Homo sapiens: one gene and its partner. The protein of the gene in region 1 purifies or fractionates together with the protein of each later gene. This does not show direct contact. Each region holds a gene or a part of one and is shown in the gene's direction. Other genes may lie near its edges.

Evidence for each region. Proteins that work in one complex are often made in the same cells at the same time.
Region 2: the proteins of ASB15 (region 1) and AGL purify together in Homo sapiens (affinity purification with mass spectrometry, with the first as the bait; one large-scale study listed by BioGRID). This does not show direct contact.

What each region holds. Positions count from the first base shown.
Region 1 is NC_000007.14:123,604,796-123,608,447, forward strand, and holds part of ASB15 (ankyrin repeat and SOCS box protein 15), read left to right. Parts: intron 1-3,652.
Region 2 is NC_000001.11:99,848,786-99,852,537, forward strand, and holds the start of AGL (glycogen debranching enzyme), read left to right. Parts: upstream 1-1,575; 5' UTR 1,576-1,630; exon of another isoform or gene 1,631-1,833; intron 1,834-1,835; exon of another isoform or gene 1,836-2,113; intron 2,114-2,189; 5' UTR 2,190-2,257; coding exon 2,258-2,339; intron 2,340-3,752. UniProt on the Homo sapiens protein: Multifunctional enzyme acting as 1,4-alpha-D-glucan:1,4-alpha-D-glucan 4-alpha-D-glycosyltransferase and amylo-1,6-glucosidase in glycogen degradation.

The sequences.
Region 1 (3,652 bases):
ATATTCAAGGGTAAGGAATAGAACTAAAACTTTCAAAAAGTACTAGAATCCTACTTTCCCATTCCACAGGAGTTCAATCACAGAATAATAACAGGTAATGTTTACTGACTACTTGTGACACGTCAGACACAGTTAACCAGGCAGCTAATGCAGGCAGGTCGGCATTTGAACAAAGGTTCAACCGTTATATTCAACTGCCTCCAACAGAAAGAAATCAATGGCCTGTACATGATTTCAAAACAAGATATGAAAAAATGCAGTGACTCATTATTATTTGAATCAATTTTGAAGGGAAAAAAATTTGACTTGAGCACCAGACAGGATTGTTTGTCATGTTGAACAAAATACATTATGCCAGGAATGAATATTTTTGGAGAGAATATATGCATATATATTTGTATATGAATATTTATGTGTATATGCATAAGAATAATACTTTTTAAAATGCTCAACATCCCTAATCATTAGAGAAATGCAAATCAAAACCACAATGAGATACCATCTCACACACCAGTCAGAATGGCTACTACTAAAAAGTCAAAAAATAACAGATGCTGGCGAGGTTATGGAGAAAAGGGAATGCTTATACAATGCTGGTGGGAATGTAACTTAGTTCGGCCACTGTGGAAAACAGTTTGGTGATTTCTCAAAGAACTTAAAGCAGAATTACCATTCAATCCAGTAATCGCATTTTTGGATATACACCCAAAGGAATATAAATCACCGTACCATAAAGATACATGCACACGTACGTTCACTGCAGTATTGTTCACAACAGCAAAAACATGGAATCAACCTAAATGCACAATGACAGTAGACTGGATAAAGATAATGTTGTACGTATACACCATAGAATACTAGCCAGCCACAAAAAAGAATGAGATTGTGTCCTTTGCAGCAACATGGATGGAGCTGTAGGGTCATTATCCTAAGCAAATTAACACCGGAACAGAAAACCAAATACCCCATGTTCTCACTTACAAGTAGGAACTAAACTGTGAGTACATACGGACACAAAGAAGGGAACAACAGACGCCAAGACCTACCTGAGGGTCGAAAGTGGGAGGAGGGCAAGGATAGAAAAACTACCTATGAGGTACTATGCCTATTACCTGCATGATAAAATACTCTGTACACCAAACCCTTGCAATATACAATTTACCTATATAACAAACGTTAAGATAAAACTTAAAATGAAAGTTAAAAAAAATAATACTTTTTAAAAGTCTGGAGATATTATTTTTATTGTTACTATAGGTAATCAATGTAGTCAAAACGTTTTTTACTCACCCTACAACTCAATTGCACAAACCAAAAGTAGCTTTTTTATTGTCTGTAACTGGCCTCACCTTTCTCAGGAGCCACCACTCACTAATTAATGGAAAATAAACTATTGATTTCATGCAGACAGACACAATAACTTAGGTAATGAAGCCACTGCTTGGACGATTCAGATAAATGAATTGCTCTTTCAAATTTCTGCTCCTTCCCACGCCAAGAAACTCTCTTCACCAAGTTCTACCTGCTTTCCTGTACATTTGGGCAATCTTCTCTCTTCTCGAGGTCACCAAGGTTCCTGGCCTGCTCAGTCCTAAGAGGTAGATGCTAAGCTAATTTTCCTGAGAGGGCTTTGTAAGCTTTGCCTCTGTAAAGTCCATCTTAGTTCACTTTTCTTGTTGTTACTGGTGGTGAAAACTCTTAAAATCTACACCCTTAGCAAATTTCAAGTATACAATACAATATTGTTAACTACAGTTACATTGTTGTACATTAGATTTCCAGAATTTACTCATCCTGCTTAACTGAAATTTGTACCCCTTGGCCAGCACCTCCTAGCCCCAGGCAACCAACATTCTACTCTTTTTTCTATGACTTCAACTTTTTAGATTCCACAGATAAATATCACAATATTTGTCTCTCTGTACCTGGCTTGTTTCATTTAGCATAACGTCCTCTAGGTTGATCCATGTTGTCACAAATGGCAAGATTCTCTTCTTTTTTAAGGTTAATAGTCCATTGTAAATACACAGCACATTTTCTTCATTTATTCATCTGTCAATGGACATTTAGGTTGTTTCTATATCTTGGCTGCCGTAAATACTGCTGCAACTAACATGGAAGTGCAGATATCTCTCTGAGATAGTGATTTCAATTCCTTTGGATATATACACACAGAAGTGAGATTGCTGGATCATAAGGTAGTTCTATTTTTAAATTTTTGAGAAACCTTTGTACTGTTTTTTAAAATAGCTATACCCCCAAAAAAGATAAACTATGTGCCAGAATGGATAGTTTACTTAGCTTGATAGTGGTGAATATTTCACAATGTATACATATGTCGAATTATCAAGTTGTACATGGTAAATACATATAATTTTAAATTGTCAACTATACTTCAATAAAGTTGGGGGAAAAATCCATCATAGTTCCTTAAAAGTGGTTAGTCATATCTGGTTAAATAAACATCATACTTAAACTAACACTTTACATATAATGTTAAATATTCTTCAAGTATATGAATTTTAATAACTGTGTAGTATTCCATTTTTATGTGTACAATAATGTCTTATACAAATTTCCTATTTTGGGACATTTATGTTGTTTCTAATGTTTTGGCAATTTAAACACAGCTGAGATAAACATTCTCACATGCACATCTTTTTTTACATCTCTGATTATTTCTTTTATTTATTTACTTATTTAGTTTTTGAGACAGAGTCTTGTTTTATCACCCAAACTGGAGTGAAGTGGCATGAACATGGCTCACTGCAGCCTCGACCTTCTAGGCTCAAGCAATCCTCCCACCTCAGCCCCCCAAGTAGCTGATACTACAGGTGCCTACCACCACATCCAATTAGTTTTTGTATTTGTTGTAGAGATGAGGTTTCACCATGTTGCCCAGGCTGGTCTCAAACTCCTGAGCTCAGGCAATCCACCTATCTCAGCCTCCCAAAGTCCTCGGATTACAGGCATGAGCCACCAGGCCCGGCCTTCTTCCTAGACATAGAATTACAGAAGAAGGATAGGGCTTTTAAAAATCATTATATCACATTAGCTTGTGATCAGGGCACGTCTACTAATAAGTTGTCTTTTCATGGGCTTATCTTTCTTTAACTCTTTGCTATTCTGTAAGTTTATATTCCCCTAGAAACCTGTGAGTTTGTGAGTCTAAAGCTCCTTCCTAAACTGTTATGAGTGTAGTCCTCAAAAGCTAACATGCATCTTCCCACATTTCTGTTATAATTAAATTTGACTTGGAAATCAATAGTAAAGAGTAAAACTTTCTTTTTTCTCTATTTTTTCTTGTTCTTATTTTATTTTTTTATCTAGTCCTCATACTAATTTCATTAAAATTTTTTACTTTTGTAATATGAAACTGGAGATAAAACTACTAAACGGGTTCTATCGTTAGTATATTTGCATAGAAATTAAGCATCAATCAGTAAAGCCCCAAAATTTGAAGAGAATTCGGCAAAAATATATCTGTGACCTATAAAGAAACACAAGGCTAATTTTAAGAGTTGTGTGTATTTAATTATACAATTATTCATTCATTTAGTAAATGCTGAGTTTTTATCCCATGCCAGATATCATGTTTAGTTTCTACAGATCATTTTGCCTTTTATATCTTTTTCTAAAATGTTGAGTTGTG
Region 2 (3,752 bases), on another chromosome or scaffold:
TTCTTCACTCAGCTATGGTGATCTTCTTCGGTTCACCAAGTATGCTCCTGCCTCATGGCCTTTGTACTTCCTATACCTCTACATGTAACCCTCTACCTTAGACTTCTTCTTTCTCGCAGTTTGGCATCACTTTACTGAACGTTATATTTAGAAATGCAAACCTCTCTCTGCTTACTCTTCCACACTTCCCCCTTCCTATTATATATAGGATATAACATATCCTTCTTATTATATAGGATATATTATATCCTGTATAATTTATTTAATTTATCTGTCTCCCACCAATAAAATGTAGGAGTTCCTTGAGGGCAGTGACTGTTTTATTGCTGCATTCCCAGCACCTTATGTGCCTGGCAAATAGTAGGGGCCAGAAAATGAGCTGTGGGTTCCCAAAGTCAGTTACGGACCATTTGCAACTAGCCATTCTCAGAAATCTACAGAAATAAACAAATACTTCAGTATGGGGTTTTTTTTTTTAACTTATATCCTCTTTGGACCTACAGTCATTCCACAATAAAGAATGCAAGAATCTTCTCCACACGCCACAAGTCTTAGTTAACCAAATCTTCTGTCCATTTTCTCATAACCATTAGGAGCCCTCCAAAAGCCCTGGAAGATGGGTTTTCCTTTACCCTCAGGCATTAAATCTCCTTAAGCATCTGCAAAAAGTTCTGAGTTACTGGCCTAACATAAGTGCAGCTTAATCTCAGACGATCTCCGGGTCTATCTAGTGTACATGAGGTACACCCGGACACCGTTAAGTATCAGTGGTGTTTGCACTCTCGATGGTTTGCAGACTGGCCACACCTTACCTACTGGGTCTGCATTCAGGAACATGTGTCCTGTCTGTTAGCACTAGAAGTGATGGACACGTGTTGGCTGGAATGTCAAGGCTGTAGCCAGGCCCCTTATTTTAGACACTTAGAAATCAGGACTCTGAGAACTTAGGCCAAGTAAAAATTATCAAAACAAAGAAACAAAACACGTGGTGGCACAAAAGACACCAGAAGCCAGGTCGTTTGCCCCTCACCATTCAGCCCTTCCCAGCAAAAGATCCTACTGTGCAGCTCAACCTAGCTCGCAGCCGGTACCGCGGGATTTTAATGTGCAACTGTGAGCTCGCAGGCTGTTAAAGGAAGGCCGCGCCTTGGCCGGTGCACCTTCCCCAGGGCAAGGAGAAAGCGCCGCTCCCGGCCTCAGCCGCAGCAGGCTCCAGGTCCCCCGGCCCGGAGCCGACTGAGACGGTGCGGTGCCCACGCTCTCGCGAGACTAGCGGTCGGGGCGGGCGGGTCGAGCCTCCCGGAAGTGGGCCAGAGGTACGGTCCGCTCCCACCTGGGGCGAGTGCGCGCACGGCCAGGTTGGGTACCGGGTGCGCCCAGGAACCCGCGCGAGGCGAAGTCGCTGAGACTCTGCCTGCTTCTCACCCAGCTGCCTCGGCGCTGCCCCGGTCGCTCGCCGCCCCTCCCTTTGCCCTTCACGGCGCCCGGCCCTCCTTGGGCTGCGGCTTCTGTGCGAGGCTGGGCAGCCAGCCCTTCCCCTTCTGTTTCTCCCCGTCCCCTCCCCCCGACCGTAGCACCAGAGTCGCGGGTCCTGCAGTGCCCCAGAAGCCGCACGTATAACTCCCTCGGCGTAAGTGCTAGGAATGCCGCTGGCCTCGCGGGGAAACGCATTCTTTCTATCTATAGCTCGCTCTGTACATCTTCTGTCTACGGCAGCTATTCCAGAGGCAACAACTGCTTCCCTCTGTTCTCATCTCCCCATTGGTGGCTGGCGACCCGAATTTGGGAATGGGGAGATTGCCCACCTGTTATCTTTGAGCAGACTAATCTCTTGTAAGCAGAAGTGCCATTCGGAGTCTCCAGAGCCCTGTGGCTTGGGGCTGGGAATGTCCCCCTGACTTCAGGCTTTCCTAAGTGTATTGCTTTTCTCTGAGAATGGTCTAGGTTTTTAATTTTTTAATTGTAAGAATCTGTAATACAGCATTTTTATTTCGGTCTTATTCGTTGTGCTCAAAGGCAGGAAACAACTATTAATTTGCCTTCTCGAATCTTAATAGTTATAAGATTCATTCTCTTTCATTGCTCTGCTAGGCATAAAACACACTTCGAACATGTAAGTGCCGCTGTCAGCTCTGGAGAGTTTAAGGCAATAGTTATTTTCGATATTTTAACTCCTTTTTGTTTCATAGGGGTAACTCATTCGACTGTGGAGTTCTTTTAATTCTTATGAAAGATTTCAAATCCTCTAGAAGCCAAAATGGGACACAGTAAACAGATTCGAATTTTACTTCTGAACGAAATGGAGAAACTGGAAAAGACCCTCTTCAGACTTGAACAAGGTCAGTAGCAAGTTGTTTTGATTTGCTCATTTGCGTCTTTTAAACTTTTAATTCATTGGCAGTCCTGTTAAATGTTTTAAAGCTCTAAGATAAATATTATTTCCAAGGGTCTAAAACTTGATTTGTGCAAAGATGGTGCTGTGTTCTCCATATATCACTAATTAATGTTGATTTGAATTAAAAATATTTTATATCCCTCGTGTTAGGATAAGGATAAAATAGTTCTCTTTTCTCTGCGTACTAATTCCCACTTAAGATTGAAGTTAAATATATGATCAGAAGATTGCCCATATTATTTCTAATAACATTTACTATTAAAACTTGGTAAATTACTTCATATGTAATTTTGCTTTGGGTATGCATGTAGTTTTGCCTTTGTATAACTGTCTCTTTTCCTTTGTTGAACCTTTGAATTGACAAAATAGATTGCAGCAAAAAGTATAGTAAACTATTGTTTATGTATATCAAAAACTTCTCAAATGTGGAGTAGGTAAAAGCTGAAAATATTTTCTTAGCAAATAAAAAGTGCAATAACTCATCTGGTTATGTTGAACTATATATAGTTGATCTGTATTTAAAAGATCAAATTACTTTTCTACAAGGCTAGTTAATAGATGTTTTATTTTCTTAGCCTTTGTAATTTTTCAACATTGAAGAAGTGTAATATATGAAAAATCCAGTCCCCCTTATTAATGTACCAAATGGATGTTGCTAGTCATAAACATTTCAAAGGAATTTTTAAATTTCGCTAATGTTTTAAGAATTAAATTTTTGAAAAAAATTTCACACATACAATGTGATATCTTCATGCCAAATCCGCGCCTTTTTCCAACTTTGGCATTTAAAATCACTGAGTACCTACTCCATTTTTGGCTTTCCTGACTCTGCACTTTTCTGGTTTTGATTTTTTTTTCCCCCTCCCCTGTTGCATATTCTTGTCAACTTGGTGTCTCTTACTAGGCTCTCTTCCTTTCACTTTTTAATTAATTATGGGTATCTGCTAGGAATTCTTTTTCTGTTCTCCTTCAAAGAATTAGTTACACAGTCTCATGGCCTCAACTGTTGCCTCTGTGCTAATGACTACTTTTGGAGGAAAAGCCTTGAGCTTTCTTCTTCTTGGAAGCTTTCAGCATTTGATGACGGGTAGATCTAGAGCCAGAATTCTCCTGGCTCTGCTGCTAACAAGCTGACTTGGGGCAAGTTACATTAATTCTGAGCATTCATTTCTTTTTTTTTTTTTTTTTTTTTCCTTTTCTCTTTTTCTGAGACAGGGTCTTACTCTGTTGCCCAAGCTGAGTGTTGTGGCATGATCATGGCTCAGTGCTGCCTCAACTTCCTGGGCTCAAGCAGTTCTCCTGCCTCAGCCTCCCAAGTAGCTGGGACTGCAGGCATACATCACTATGCCCCGCTAAT